Regions from separate parts of the Homo sapiens genome. Here region 1 is reported to be linked to region 2. The links are microRNA targets in miRTarBase. Many come from high-throughput screens and were not tested one by one. Region 2 holds a microRNA gene; the other region holds the end of a gene's coding sequence.

What was found. Region 2 holds the annotated microRNA hsa-miR-4492 (GGGGCUGGGCGCGCGCC, at 1,997-2,013, opposite strand). A microRNA usually pairs through its seed, bases 2 to 8, with sites in the 3' UTR of a target mRNA and lowers its output. Matches are read on the target gene's strand: a 7mer-m8 pairs with bases 2 to 8, a 7mer-A1 pairs with bases 2 to 7 and ends in A, and an 8mer does both.
Region 1: the mRNA of MAN2B2 is a reported target of hsa-miR-4492. Seed matches in the 3' UTR shown: 7mer-m8 at 1,432-1,438 and 7mer-m8 at 1,723-1,729.

The regions. Positions count from the first base shown.
Region 1 is chr4:6,620,077-6,627,181 of GRCh38, forward strand. MAN2B2 (mannosidase alpha class 2B member 2) reads left to right here. Exons shown (of 19, transcript NM_015274.3): 19 at 1,112-3,286. The coding sequence ends at 1,209. Among named protein-coding and RNA genes, the nearest start is that of MRFAP1, 17 kb to the right of the region's middle. RefSeq lists a silencer at 2,374-2,567.
Region 2 is chr11:118,905,665-118,912,777 of GRCh38, reverse strand. It overlaps MIR4492 (microRNA 4492), which reads right to left and starts at 2,070; the gene lies at 1,991-2,070. It overlaps BCL9L (BCL9 like), which reads left to right. Exons shown (of 10, transcript NM_001378213.1): 3 at 2,763-2,864; 4 at 4,123-4,508; 5 at 5,176-5,295. The coding sequence starts at 2,839. RefSeq lists enhancers at 1-268, 269-810, 1-1,085, 1,353-1,892, 2,976-3,517 and 1 more.

The sequences.
Region 1 (7,105 bases), not on the chromosome of region 2:
GGACTCCCAGCCAGGCTCAGCAGCTGGTCAGACCCGGTGCACATCCAACCATCTGCCTGTCCCGGCCTGTGCGACCTTGCGAGGCTGCTTTCCTACTCTGAACCCGCAGCCCTCCCAAATCTACTACAGTCGGTTAAGAAAGGCTTTGGGTTAGTCTCTGCCTGCCAGGGCTCCACACAGGCGTGTGTGTGCACTTGTACGTGTGCACACGCAGACCACACGCCCTGCCTGTGCCCTGGGTGACAGCTAGGGGCCCAGGGGCTTCTGCCCACCTTGGCCCTGCTGACCTCAGCCCATCAGCCGGTCCCTGCCTCATACGACATGTGCCACCGTGAGCTCCTGCACTACAGGCAGCTTCCAGGCTCCACTCCCTGTCCGCACCATGCCCTCTGCCTGGGACGCACAGGTCCCATTCACTCTGGCCAGCACCTGCTCAAGCTCCCCAGGATGCCTCCCCAGAGTCACCAACCAGGCCAAGTGCCTCCTCCACTCTCCTGGCCCCAGGGGTTTCTTCTGTCCTGTGCAGCTCGTTGTCCACTACACACAGCATGGTGGCGGGTGCATGGTGCACGCTCAGTTGGTGGTGGGAGGAAGGAAGGGACGGAGGGAGGGAGGGAGGGAAGATGATGTTGGTTGGAAAGAAGGAAGGAAGATGGATGAGTGATAGATAAGTGGACGGCTCCCTCCCAAGATCGAAGCCCAACCCCAGGGCATGCCTTCAGGGGAGCCTGGTGAGGCAAGGGCAGACTCACCAGATGGTCTCAGAAAGCTCTTGGGCTTTGAGGGCAACACCCATGAGGAATTGAGGCCACTAGGGCCAGGACCAACCTATGAATTGCCCTCAGGGTGGGCAGAAACGCCAAGAGGCCCACAGGAGTCCTGGCAGAAGGGGATGCCATAGGCCGTTGCCACGGTGGGAGCCACAGCAGACTGTAGCCAGGTGCAGTGTGGTGAGAAGGAGGCTGGGAGCCACAGCAGATTGTAGACAGGTGCAGGAGGGTGAGAGGGAGGCTGGGAGCCACAGCAGACTGTAGACAGGTGCAGGGGGTGAGAGGGAGGCTGGGAGGAGGCATCCCAGGCCACACTGGACAGATCACCTCTGTTCCCCTAGGTGACACCACCTCTCCCTCGAGGCCACCAGGAGGCCCCATCATCACCGTCCACCCAAAGGAAATCCGGACGTTCTTTATTCACTTTCAACAGCAGTGAGCCCTGGGCAGATGCCCCGGCCCCAGGGCTTCCCCCAGGAACTCCATGTAACAGAACAGACCCAGGACAGGGAAAAGCAGTGCGGAGGGATGGGACTGGGGAGTCAGCTGCTCATCTGCAGGCTAATGGCAGGAAATGGTCATATTTGGGGTTTTTCCCTAATTTTTTTAAACAAAAATTACATTACAAGATCCAGGTTCTTCCCCCCCACACTCAATCAAGCCAGCCCTCTCCTCTTCTGTCACGTAAAGGATATTTGGCACACTCATGCGTCATTCATTCACAAAACACAAACCCAGGACTTTCTGCCTAAGGCAGAGCACAAGACTCACAGCAGCACCGAAGCGCATCTGCCGTCCGGGCCCTGCCAGGCTTGCCAGGCTGCCAGTGGTAACTGTGGACCTACTGCGTGCCACGTGTTTTCATAGACTCATCCCATGCTGGCAACAGCCCTGCAAGGGGCTTGGCTCTGCCACAGGGCAGGAGAGGAAGTTGTAGCGCCTAGCGAGAGTTCCAGCCCCAGACGCCCACCTGTGCCTCAGGGCACCGCCTGCCGAGCAGAGAAGGCACAGCAGCCGTCAGAGTCCATGAGAGGTGAAACCACACAGCAGGGATGTCCAATATCAGAACTATTAATATCAATAAAAGTATAACCTTCCCAGGTCTATGCCCAAGAGAATTGAAAACATCCATCCACACAATACCTGTGCTCCCGCGTTCATAGCAGCATTACTCAAAAGTCAAACGGTAGCAACAACCCAAATGTCCATCCACAGATGAATTAAGACATGAAGTGTGTTCTGTCCATACAATGGAATATTATTTGGCCATAAAAAGGAAGGAAATTCTGACGCATGCCACAGCCTGAGTGAATCCTACAAATATTACGCTAAGTGAAAGAAGCCAATCACGAGTTTATGTGAAATGTCCAGAATAGGCAAATCTGTGTATCAGAGACAAAGCACATTGGTGGTTGCCAGGTACTGGAGGAAGAGAGAAGAGGCATGACAGCTAACAGGGACGGGCTTTCTTTGGAAGATGATGAAATTGTGGAATGATGGTTGCACAACTTTGTGAATATACTAGAAACCAATGAATTAAAAACTTTGGAAGATGAATTTTATGGTCTGTGAATTATATCTCAATTTTAAAACTTTTTTTTTTTTTTCCCGAGACAGAGTCTCACTCTGTCGCCCAGGCTGGAGTGCAGTGTCAAGATCTCAGCTCACTGCGACCTGCACCTCCTGGGTTCAAGCAATTCTCCAGCCTCTGCCTCCCGAGTAGCTGCTACTAGAGATGCACCACTGCGTCAGCTAATTTTTGTATTTTTAGTAGAGACGGGGATTCACCATGTTGGCCAGGCTGATCTGGAACTCCTGACCTCAGGTGATCTGCCTGCCCCGGCCTCCCAAAGTGCCAGGATTACAGGCGTGAGCCAATGTGCCCGGCCTAAACCGTTTTAAAGAGTAAACTGTAAGATGTAGGAAATTATTTGGTACTCTAGGGCTGAAGGAAAGTACCCAGAAAGGACCAGCTTGGAAGGAGTCAGACCTCTGGACAACGTGCAGTTTGGCCACCAGACAGCAAAGACAGTCTCTGGTTTGGCCAGGCAGGAGCTGGGCTGGAGTTGCTGACCAAGCAATAGGCCACCCCTGTGAGGTGGGGTCAGGTGAGCAGCCACCAGAGGCATGGATGTGCAGTGGGAGGTTGAGGCACAAGGAGTGAGGCAGGAGCCCTTTAGAGCATGTGGGCTGCATGAGGCTTGGTTTCTGTGTCAAGAAGACTATGGAGGCTGGGCAGTGGTTCATGCCTTAATCCCAGCACTTTGGGAGGCCAAAGCAACCGGATCACTGGTGGTCAGTAGTTCAAGACCAGGCTGGCCAACATGGTGAAACCCCATCTCTACTAAAAATACAAAGTTAACCGGGTGTGGTGGTGTGCGCCTGTAGTCCCAGCTACTCGGGAGGCTGAGGCAGGAGAATCAATCACTTGAACCTGGGAGGCGGAGGAGACCTCCGCCTCTGCACTCCAGCCTGGGTGACAAGAGTGAGACTCCGTCTCAAAAAAAAAAAAAAAAGGAAGACTACGGAGGCCAGGCGTGGTGGTTCATGCCTGAAATTCCAACACGCTGGGAGCCCTAGGCAGAAGGATCGCTTGAGCCCAGGTGTTCCAGACCAGCCTCGGCAATATAGTGAGACCCCATCTCTACAAAAACTATTCTTTAGACGAGCGTGGTGGTGTGCACCAGTGGTCCCAGCTACTCTGGGGGCTGAGGTGGGAGGCTCACTTGAGCCCAGGAGGTCGAGGCTTCAGTGAGCCATGATCATGCCACTAACTCCAACCGGGGTAATAGAGCAAGACCCTGTCTCAGAAAAAAATAAAGAAGACTATGGAAATGTTATCCCCAGCGCAGCCAGGCTGTAGAAAAATCATGTGCACTGAAAGTACCATCACCCATGCTGACCATCCCCGTCCAGAACAGAAACAGCAAGAGAGCCACTTCCCCCTGCGGTCCCTCCAGCACCCAGCACCCTCAACTGGGAAGAGTGAGAAGAATATAGATGACAGGGGAAAACCCACCCACAATAGACAGAATATTGGCTAAAATCTAACATCCATTTGTTGCTTTGTTGTTATTTCATTTCATTTTACTTTTTTAGACACAGGGTCTCGCTCTGTCACCCAGGTGGGAGTGCAGTGGCACTATCATAGCTCACTGGAACCTCTTAACTCCTGGGCTCAAGTAGTCCTCCCATCCCACCCTCCTGAGTAGCTGGGACTACAAGCATGAGTCACTACACCCAACTAATTTTTAAAATGTTTGTGGAGACGCAGTCTCACTATGTTGCCCAAGCTGGTCTTGAACTCCTGAGCTCAAGCGATCCTCCCACCTAGGCCTCCCAAAGTGCTGGGATTACAGGCTCAAGCCACTGTGAATGGCCTGTTTTTTGTTGTTGTTGTTTGTTTTTTTTTTTTTTTTTTTTTTTTTTTTACAAACCACCACCACCAAACTCCCAATAAACTACGTTGCTCACTGACAATCCCCAACAGGTTTATTGCGGAACTTGACAGGATGATTCTGAAGTGCACTGGGGCTAGGTACAGTGGTTCGTGCCTGTAATCCCAGCACTTTGGGAGGCCAAGGTGGGTGGATCACTAGAGGCCAGGAGTTCGAGACCAGGCTGGCCAACATAGTGAAACCCCCTCTCTAAAAAAATACAAAAATTAGCCAGGCTTAGTGGCAGACGACTGTAATCCCAGCACTTTGGGAGGCCGAGGCGGGCTGATCACCTAAGGTCAGGAGTTCGAGACCAGCCTGACCAACATGGAGAAACCCCGTCTCTACTAAACATACAAAATTAGCCGGGCATGGTGGTGGGCACCTGTAATCCCAGCTACCCGGGAGGCTGAGGCAGGAGAATCTCTTGAACCCAGAAGGCGGAGATTGCGGTGAGCCGAGATCGTGCCACTGCGCTCCAGCCTGGGCGACAAGAGCGAAACTCTGTCTCAAAAAAAAAAAAACACACACACACACACACACACAAGTGCACATCTTCGTCCGTTTGGGCTGCTGTCATAGAATCCCGTACACTTTGGGAGGCCAAGGTGGGCGGATCACAAGGTCAGGAGATCGAGACCACAGTGAAACCCCGTCTCTACTAAAAATACAAAAAATTAGCCGGGCGTGGTGGCGGGCGGCCTGTAGTCCCAGCTACTCGGGAGGCTGAGGCAGAAGAATGGCGGGAACCCGGGAGGCGGAGCTTGCAGTGAACCGAGATTGTGCCACTGCACTCCAGCCTGGGTGACAGAGCGAGACTCCGTCTCAAAAAAAAAAAAGAATACCATACACTGAGTGGCTTATCAACAACAGGAATTTATTTCTCCCAATTCTGGATGCTGGGAGTCCAAGGTGCCAGCAGATTCGGTGTCTGGGGAGGGGCTGTTTCCTGGTCTATAGATGGTGCCGTCTTGCTCCGTCCTCACATGGCAGAAGGGGCAAGGCAGCTCTCTGGGCTCGGTTTCTAGGAGGGTGCTAATATAACAGTACTGAGTCTACCTTAAAGAAAAATTGTGTTTGCTTGAGTATAATTACAGCTTTGCTTACGCTTACACACTATTCATTAAAAACAGCCTCAGGGAAAGAGGACCTTCAGCAGAGATAAGAGAGAAGTGCACTGACCAGCAATCCTGGAAGCGGCTAGCCGCAGGTTTCCACCCACCAGATGAGAATAGTTGGGCTGAGGTCGAGGCAGGAGGATCACGTAAGTCCAAAAGTTTGAGACCAGCCTGGGCAAAATAGGGAGACCCCGTCTCTATAAATAGTAACAAAATTTAAGTAGGTGTGGCACACGCCTGTAGTCCCAGCTACTCAGGAGGCTGAGGTGGAAGGATCCCCTGAGCCAGTGAAGTCAAGGCTGCAATGAGCCATGCCTGGGCAACAGAGTGAGACTGTCCAAAAAAAAAGCAAAACTAAGACTAATCTGGCTGGCCTGGTGCAGCCAGCACTTTGGGAGGCTGAGGGGGAGAGATCATTTGAGCCCAGGAGTTGGAGACCAGCCTGGGCAACTTGGTAAAACCCAATCTCTAAAAAAAATTTTAAAATTAGCCAGGTGTGATGGTGCGTGCCTTTAGTCCCAGCTACTGTAGAGGGTGAGGTGGGAGGATCACCTGAACCTGGGGAGGTCAAGGCTACAGTAAGCCGTGATCATGCTACTGCACTCCAGCCTGGGCAACAGAATGAAACCCTGTTCCAAAAAAAAAAAAAAAAAAAAAAAAAAAAAAAATAGCTGCACTTGCAAAAGGTCACATGACATCCCCGCAAGACAGCAATCGTAACTACCTGCCTGAGACTGCGCACATAGCTGCTGTTCCACAAGAATGCTTTGATCATCATTCGCACTTCCCCAGATTTCCCTTAAAAACGTGCATCTGGAGACACAACTTGGAGAGGTGATCTTTGAACACAAGAGTTCAGTGCCCCTGCCCCCACCTCCCAAGCTGCTGGCTTCTCGAATAAAGCTACCTTTCCTTTTACCAAAACTTGTCTCTCGAATGTCGGCGAGTGAGTGGCCTGAACCCGAGTTCAGTTACACTAATCCCCATAACCTAATCACCTCCCAACATCCCCACCTCCTAATACCATCAACTGGGGGATTAGGGTTCGGTATATGAATTTAGGGGGACAAAAACATTCAGACCAGAGCAAACAAAGAGCTCAGAAGCTGGACCGCGCACACGGAAGCTGATAGAAGAGAGATGGGGCCGGGCGCGGTGGCTCACGCCTGTAATCCCAGCACTTTGGGAGGTCGAAGCGGGTGGATCATCTGAGGTCGGGAGTTCGGGACTAGCCTGACCAACACGGAGAAACCCCGTCTCTACTAAAAATACAAAATTAGCCAGGTGTGGTGGTGCATGCCTGTAATCCTAGCTACTCAGGAAGGCTGAGGCAGGAGAATCGCTTGAACCCGGGAGGCGGAGGTTGCGATGAGCCAAGATCGCGCCACTGCACTCTAGCCTGGGCAACAAGAGCGAAACTCGGTCTCAAAAAAAAAAAAGAGCGAGATGGGGTGCCACATGGTGAGGAAGAATGTTGCATGGCAGAGGTGCTGTGACAACTCCCCCTCACTTGGAACAAAAAGAAACTTCACCCTCCCTCGCATCGTACGCAGACAGCCCCCAGCTGAAACCCCAGCGGTCAATACAGGCGTGAAAAGATGGTCAGCCTCCTTAGCATTCAGGTCTGTGCAAATGAAAACCACAATAAGACACTGTTTCACATCTGCCGTGTTTTCTATTTAAAAGATTAAAAATATGGGCAATTTTTTAGTGGACAATCATGGAAACTCTCTCAGACTTCTAATGTGAGAGTAAACAGAAGGAGCAAACTTAAGAAACT
Region 2 (7,113 bases):
CTGCCTCTTTGGGGTGGTTTTGAGCTAGGCAGTGACACTGCTGGGCCAGCTGGTGAGCCAAGCAGAGGCTCCCAACGTGGGGGCAGCTAGGAGCAGGCAGGTTGCCACTGGATGTGTGAACGCCTGCCCTACCTGTGGTAGTTGTGTGTGGAGCAGAGCCGGTGTGTCATACCTGGAGGCTCTGGGCATCTGAGCCTTCCTCAGCTCCCTCCCCCAGCTAGGATCAAGTCCACTTTAACCCTTAGCAACCCTTAGGCTGCTAGCTCCTACCCTCGCGTCACTCGGGGTGGGGGAGCGGATGGATATCTCAGGCCCTTTGTCAAGCCGCCTCTTCCGCTCCTCCGATTCATTCTCCTGGTATGCGCCTGGCCTTCCACTCAGGTGACTCGCACCTGCTCCCTGTTTGTGAGCTTGCTACCCCTCCCCACCTAACCCCCTAAGAGGGAGGCACGGTGACGTGTTCCCAGAGCCCCATCCCTTTGCTTTCTCGTACCTCAAGGGCCCCTGGCCTGGTACTAGCAAGCCCCCTTCACTGGGTGCTTTAAAATTGCATTGGGCTGGGATCAGCCCTCTTGGCTTCCCATCACCAGGCCTTCCAGGTGTCTTCGGAGACTGTGAGTGTGTGGAGGAGGAGGGGTCTTCGGGAGCTGGGGCAGACTCTTGAGGGGCAAAGGGGGGAGGTGTGAGATGGGAAAGTCCTGACTCATCCACGCTTGACTCAGCTCGCCCTGCGGCGGGGTGGGAGAGAGGGGGTGGAGTCCCGGAGGGGAGGGTGACTGGAAGAGTCTTCTGGGGAGGAGCCTAGGCCTGAACGGCCACTGGAGAGGACTGATTTTCTAATAGCCCCTTCCCAAATTCTTACAGGTTCTCAATTTTTGAGGCTGTGAACATAGGTAGTGAGTGGCCCTTGCCCTGCCCCTCCCCCCTTATGGGGGACCTGGGCACTGTGGCTGGAATGTGGGAAGCCCAACTATCTGATGCAGGCTCAGAGGAGCAGTCATGGCTGGCGTGGGGAGGTGGGGTCACTGCAGTGTCTGGAATGAGGGTCCGTCCCCACACTGCCACATACTGGATATGTGACTCAAGGTCACGCCACTTCCTTTTCCCAGACCTCAGTTTCCTCGTTGAAATGGGGTCGATCCTTTTGAGAATCAGCGAGCTGGTGAAGGGAGAGCCTGAGATGCATGCCAGCCAGGAGCCTGCTCAGAGCCCTGGTATCTCAGTGACTCCAGCCTCTGCCTCTGCTCTTCCCTGGTTGTGATGGAGAAGCTGGGGGTGGCGGGCTGCTTCCCAGGCAGGTCCTGGACTTTGGAACCTTCCCCCAGGAGCCTTCCTCCCCAGAGACACGGCTGGAGTGGCGAAGGCCAATGTGCCCTAGGGTTAAGTTGGGGTTAGACTCCCGCAGGGTGGCAGGTGGGGCCCCCTCACCCCCAGGTCCCCGCCCAGCCTCCAGCAGCCCCGCAGGGAGCATCAGGAGTGTGCACCGGTGTCTGGCCGGGCCTGTCACCGGGACGAAGCTCCTGGGCCCAAGACTCCTCCCCTTTGACCGGGATCGGCTGCTGGAGGGCTGCTGGAGGGCGGGTAGGGGAGGCGAGGGGGGAGCCAGGGCTGGGGGCGGTTGGGTGAGGCCTCTGTGTTTGTGTAAGTCTGTTGCTGTATCTATGGCCCTGTGCGTGTTTCTTTGTGACTACCAGGCTCAACTTTCTTCGGCTCTCTTGTGGCCGGCCTCAGTCTTTTCATCTGTTCAATGGGTCCGGCGCTCCCACTCAGCCCTCGGGCAGCCCCGGTGTCTGCGCGTGCCCCAGGCTGTCTCCGCGCCTCCCGCTCCGGCGGCGCTTCCCTGGCCTCGGCGCGCCTCTAGCTTCCTGGGCTCCGTGCGTGTCTTGTCTCCCTGTCCACGTGTGAGCTGTGAGTGTGTGTGAGTCAGAGTTCGGGTGTCTGTGGGTCTCTGAGCCTCTGCTGGCAGCACCCGGGGCTCGCCAAGCTCTTGCCGGCTGGCGCGCGCCCAGCCCCTGGCGGGACTTGTCCGTGTGTCTGTCCGCGCGCGGGGCCTGGAGAAGCACGCTGCAGTCCTGTCCGCCTCCCGCTCGCTGCCTCGCTGGCTGTCGCTCGCTCGCTCTGCCTCTCCGCCCGGGCTCTGCCGAAGGGGGCGGGGTGGGGGTGCAGGGCGGGGGGAGGGGAGGCTCCTGCATTCTTGCGGTCGGGGAGGAATCCGAGCCAGCGTTACTGGTCTCCAGAAGAGCCCAGCTGCAGCCCCGGGGCCCCGCCAGGCCTCTCGCTGCCCGCCCGGGCCTGCTGGGATGGGCACGGGCTAGGCCTCGAGCTGGGGACGGGGCGGGGCGTGGCCCCAACCCCGGGCCCCCTCCACGGCTGGAGCGCTCTGGGGGTGGGGCACGAGGGGTACCCCACCCTGGGTGAGGGGCGCGTCTGGGAGCAGGAATCCCTCAGGGGGCCAGGGGAGACCTCACAGCCGCCCCACACGGCACCTTTGCTACCTAGCCTTTTAGTGAATTCTGTCTCTGCCGCCCGTCGGGGCGGAGGCTTGCTGGAGACTGCAAGCCCCCTGAGGGCAAGGTGCGGGAGGGATGGGGACAGGGCTGGCCTCCAGGATCGAGACCCCATCTCGTAATCCTCTTTTTCCAGTGCCACCCCACCCTATCCAGCTCCCTAGTCCCAGGGCTGTTGGGTCCTCCCTTCTCCCCTCCCCCTCTGACACCCCCTCCCCAAGTCACGAGTTTTCTCTTTGGGGCTTGTTGCTGCAGTCCGTGCTCCAGTACCGAGTACCTGGCTGGGCCCTGGGCACGCACAGGGGCCGTAGCCCCACTGTGTGTGGGAGCCATGAGGATCCTGGCTAACAAGACAAGGTGTGTGGGTGTCGTGGCGGGTGGGATGTGTGTGTGTGGAGTGCGGGAAGGGAAGGGCCCAGTGGTGATGGGGCCCAAGCTGTGCTGGCCAGGAGAGGAGCCGCCCTGGGCACCTGGCTCCCAGGCCACCAGTGGGCTAAAGGGGGGTTAGCATGGGAAGGCCTGGCCCGAGGCAGGAGGCGCAGCCAGCCTTAGTGCCTGGGCCTGGGTGGGGGGCAGAGGGGACTGGCAGCCAGCTATGCTTGCGGCTTCTGGTCCCTTCTAGTTCTTCCCTCCTTAAAATGGTTTGAGCAGACCCCCTCCCACCCTACTGTGGGGTCCGAAGGCCGCCTCTGGCCTCAGTCTAGCTGGAGGTGGGAGCTGGAGTAGGGGGCGGTGCCTGCCTCCCTCCCCCCTCCCCGGAGAAGCCGGCAGACAGGGCCAGGCGGCAGCAGCAGGACAGCAGAGCTGAAATAAATCTGAGCTGGTGTGGAATGAGGGGGGATAAATATCCTCTCCCGTGATGTGATCTTTCCAGCGGCTATTAATAGGTCTCCGGGGAGGGGGAGGCGGCGGGGGGAGCGGGCTGGAGCTTAAAGGGCCCGCAGCCTAGGCTGCAGGAATCCTTGGCTTCAAGCTACACTCCCCATCTGCTTGACACACCGCTCCCCTCCCCCTTTCCTCCTGCTTCTGCCTGCCGGCCTGGCCTGCCAAGCCCCCCTCCTCAGGCCTTCCCCTCCAGCTGTCTGGACCAGTGGGTAGCACTCCCTGGTGTGCGTTTTCCCACTGTCCCTGGGGAATGAGACCCGGGCATGTGCAGTGACCCCAGGTCCTGTGGCCCTTCTCTGCTGGTGTTGGGACATATGGGAGTTGAGGTTTGAGACCTTGGAAGGAGTCTGAAGACAGCAGATCTTAGAAGAGAGGATGCTTAAGTCTGATACAGAGGACAGGGTTGCCACAGAAGCTTGCAGGCTGATGGGTGTTTTGGGGCTGAGGTGGGTGAATTCTGCCAACTCTAGGCCCTGGTTTCCATTCAAATTGTGGAGGCTAGGGGGTGGAGGGTTTCCCCATCTCCACTCCCCAAGGTGGATGAGGGCTTCAGCCCTTGTCTGAGGAAGCCATGGAGGGAGGTAGAGAATAGCTGGTGGTGGTCTTGAGATACCACCCCTTCCCCCCACCCTCCCCCATTGTTAGGGGAGGCAGGATGGGGTAATTAAGTTGCAGGCATGCCTAGCCCCTAGCAAGGTTAACTTTTCACATTTCTCCCACCTCCTCCCAGGTTACCCCACCCCAGGAGGAGAGAAGCTCCAGGGAGCCCGCCGCTGTCCCCCCGCGGTCATTGCCCCCCTGCCCCAGCCAAGCCAATGCACCCAGAAAATAAATTGACCAATCATGGCAAGACAGGGAATGGCGGGGCCCAATCTCAGCACCAGAATGTGAACCAAGGACCCACCTGCAACGTGGGCTCGAAGGGCGTGGGGGCGGGGAACCATGGGGCCAAGGCCAACCAGATCTCGCCTAGCAACTCAAGTCTGAAGAACCCCCAGGCAGGGGTGCCCCCTTTCAGCTCGCTCAAGGGCAAGGTGAAGAGGGACCGGAGTGTGTCTGTGGACTCTGGAGAGCAGCGAGAGGCTGGGACCCCATCCCTGGATTCAGAGGCCAAAGGTACCCCATTTCCTCATCCCTAAGACCCTAGCATCTCCCATAGTCCAAGGCTCAGATGTTCTGGGAGATCACCTCTCTGCTCCCTGCTTGTCCAGTCCTCATCCCACGTTCTTCTCCAGTATTTCTGCATGGGTACCTTTCAACACCCACCAACCAGATCATTCGGGATTGGGGTTGGCCATGATGCCACCCATGGAGGGGCCACACAGAGTGGTCGGACTTCTGGACTCCTTCCCCTCCTGCTTTCCCACCAGAGCTCCAGAAGGGGAGAGGGAGGTGCCATGGAGTGAGGAGCAGACCCCAGACCCACACACTTCCAGGAGCCTCCGTATCCCGGCTGGTGGGAGCCCTTTGGGAGCAGGCACTGGGGCCTGGAAGAGTAGCAGCAGCTCCCCCTCCCCTCCAGCCCTAATTAGAACCAGTTGTGGTTGGGGATTATGCTGTACTTGGTGTTGGGGGGGAGGGGAGACAGGCATGGGGCTATAGAGAGAAATCAGAAACAAATGGTGGCGTGGTGGGGGCCACGGGCTGGCGAAGTGCCCACCATGGCCTGGGCAGTGCCCTCTAGGGTGGGGCATCTTAGAGAATGGATCTGGGAGGGACCCTGGGTGTGGGAGAATAATGGGGCCTCTAGGCACTCACTCTTTCCTCCGTCCTGCCTGGGCAGAGGTGGCGCCGCGGAGTAAGCGGCGCTGTGTGCTGGAGCGGAAGCAGCCGTACAGTGGGGACGAATGGTGCTCTGGACCGGACAGTGAGGAGGACGACAAGCCCATTGGGGCCACCCACAGTGAGTGCCTGTCGATGCCAGGGTGCTGTAGCCCGTGATGTTCCTGGGGGATGGACTTGAGAGGACTGAGCCTGGGAAAGAAGTGAGGACTGGGAGTCCTGGATTTTTCTCTCCCATCCTACCTCTCAGACTCTGTCCCTCCCTACACTGCAACTGCCTCGCCTCTGCCTTCCAGGTGCTCAGTGACCCCCTCTCCCTAGGGACCCTAGGTGGGGCAGAGTGGAGTGGCCTCCTTCTTGGTCACGTCACCTGCACCTCTACCTGTGAATTCCTGGCCTATGCTGCCACCTACTGGTTAGTGGAGGGAGGGCGGTGAAGCGTCCAGGGACACTGGGAGCCGGGCAGTTGGCTCTGCTGTGCAAAGCCCTGCTAAGCCTGGGTGTGAGTTGCCACTTGGCCGTGTCTCTAGTGCCCTTCCCTAACCTCTAATTGACTCCTGGCAAGTACCCAGGGTGTGTCACCAGGACAAGAAGTGGGTGTGGAGGGATGCCCACTCCTCCTCTGATTCTTTTATGGATTCGCCTATATCTTGTCCTTCCATGAGTGATGGGGGAGAGCCAGATGTAACCCCTGCCCCTGGGAAGCTTGTACATATTTTTTTTCCCTCAAAGTTTACGTTTACATCTTTTTGAGGAGAGAGACATAAGAAACTAGCCAGAGAGGCTGGGTGTGGTGGCTGTCACCTGTAATCCCCAGAATTTGGGGAGCTGAAACCGGAGAATTGCTTGAGCCCAGGAGTTCAAGAACAGCCTGGCCAACATAGGGAGACCCCATCTCTAAAAAGAGAGAGAGAGAGAAAGAAAGGAAAGAAGTAAAGAAAGAAGAAAAAGAAACTAGCCAGAGACTATTAAATTGTGAACTCCTTGAAGGCAGGGACCATAGAAAGAAGAAAGAAAAGAGTACATTGGCTACTTTGCTACTCTGTTTTATTTAATCCTTACAACAGCCCTGTGAGGTCAGTGTTATCATGATGCCAATTACAGAGGAGGAGAGAGAGTCAGCAAATGTTATGGAGTGAGCAGACTATGTCTGTGACAGGGGTGTAGAGGGTCAAATACCAAACCTCTACAGCTAGCTGGAACCTCACAGACCATCCTGTATCAGTTCTCTCTCCCCCGTGGGACTAACCTGGTGGTCGCCAAGCCTCTGGCTGAACCCTTTGATGATAGAAGCCTTTACTGCTTCCCAGACCAGACACCTCCCCCCATAGCCACCACCTCCAGTTCACTTATGTCACATCAGACTGCACCATTGTAGAAACTTTGTGAGTTTTATTTATTTATTGTTTAGAGACAGGGTCTCTCTCTGACACCCAGGCTGGAGTGCAGTGGTGTGATCACAGCTCACTGCAACCTCAAACTCCTGAGCTCAAGTGATCCTCCCATCTCAGACTCCCAAGTAGCTGGGGCTCAGGCATGTATCACACCTGGCTAATTTTTGTAGAGACAGTCTTGCCATGTTGCCCAGGCTGATCTTGAACTCCTGGTCTCAAGCGATCCTCATGCCTTGGCCTCCCAAAGTGCTGGAATTACAGGAGTGAGCCACTGTGCCTGGCAAACATAGGGAAATACAAAGTAGAAATTGCTAACATCCCATACTCAAGGCGACTATTTTAGTCGTACTACCCTTAGATTCTTTTATTTATTTATTTATTTATTTATTTTTGAATCGGAGTTTCACTCTTGTTGCCCAGGCTGGAGTGCAATGGCACGAACTCGGCTTACTGCAACCTCTGCCTCCTGAGTTCAAGCGATTTTCCTGCCTCAGCCTCCCGAGTAGCTGGGATTACAGGCACCTGCCACCACGCCTGGCTAATTT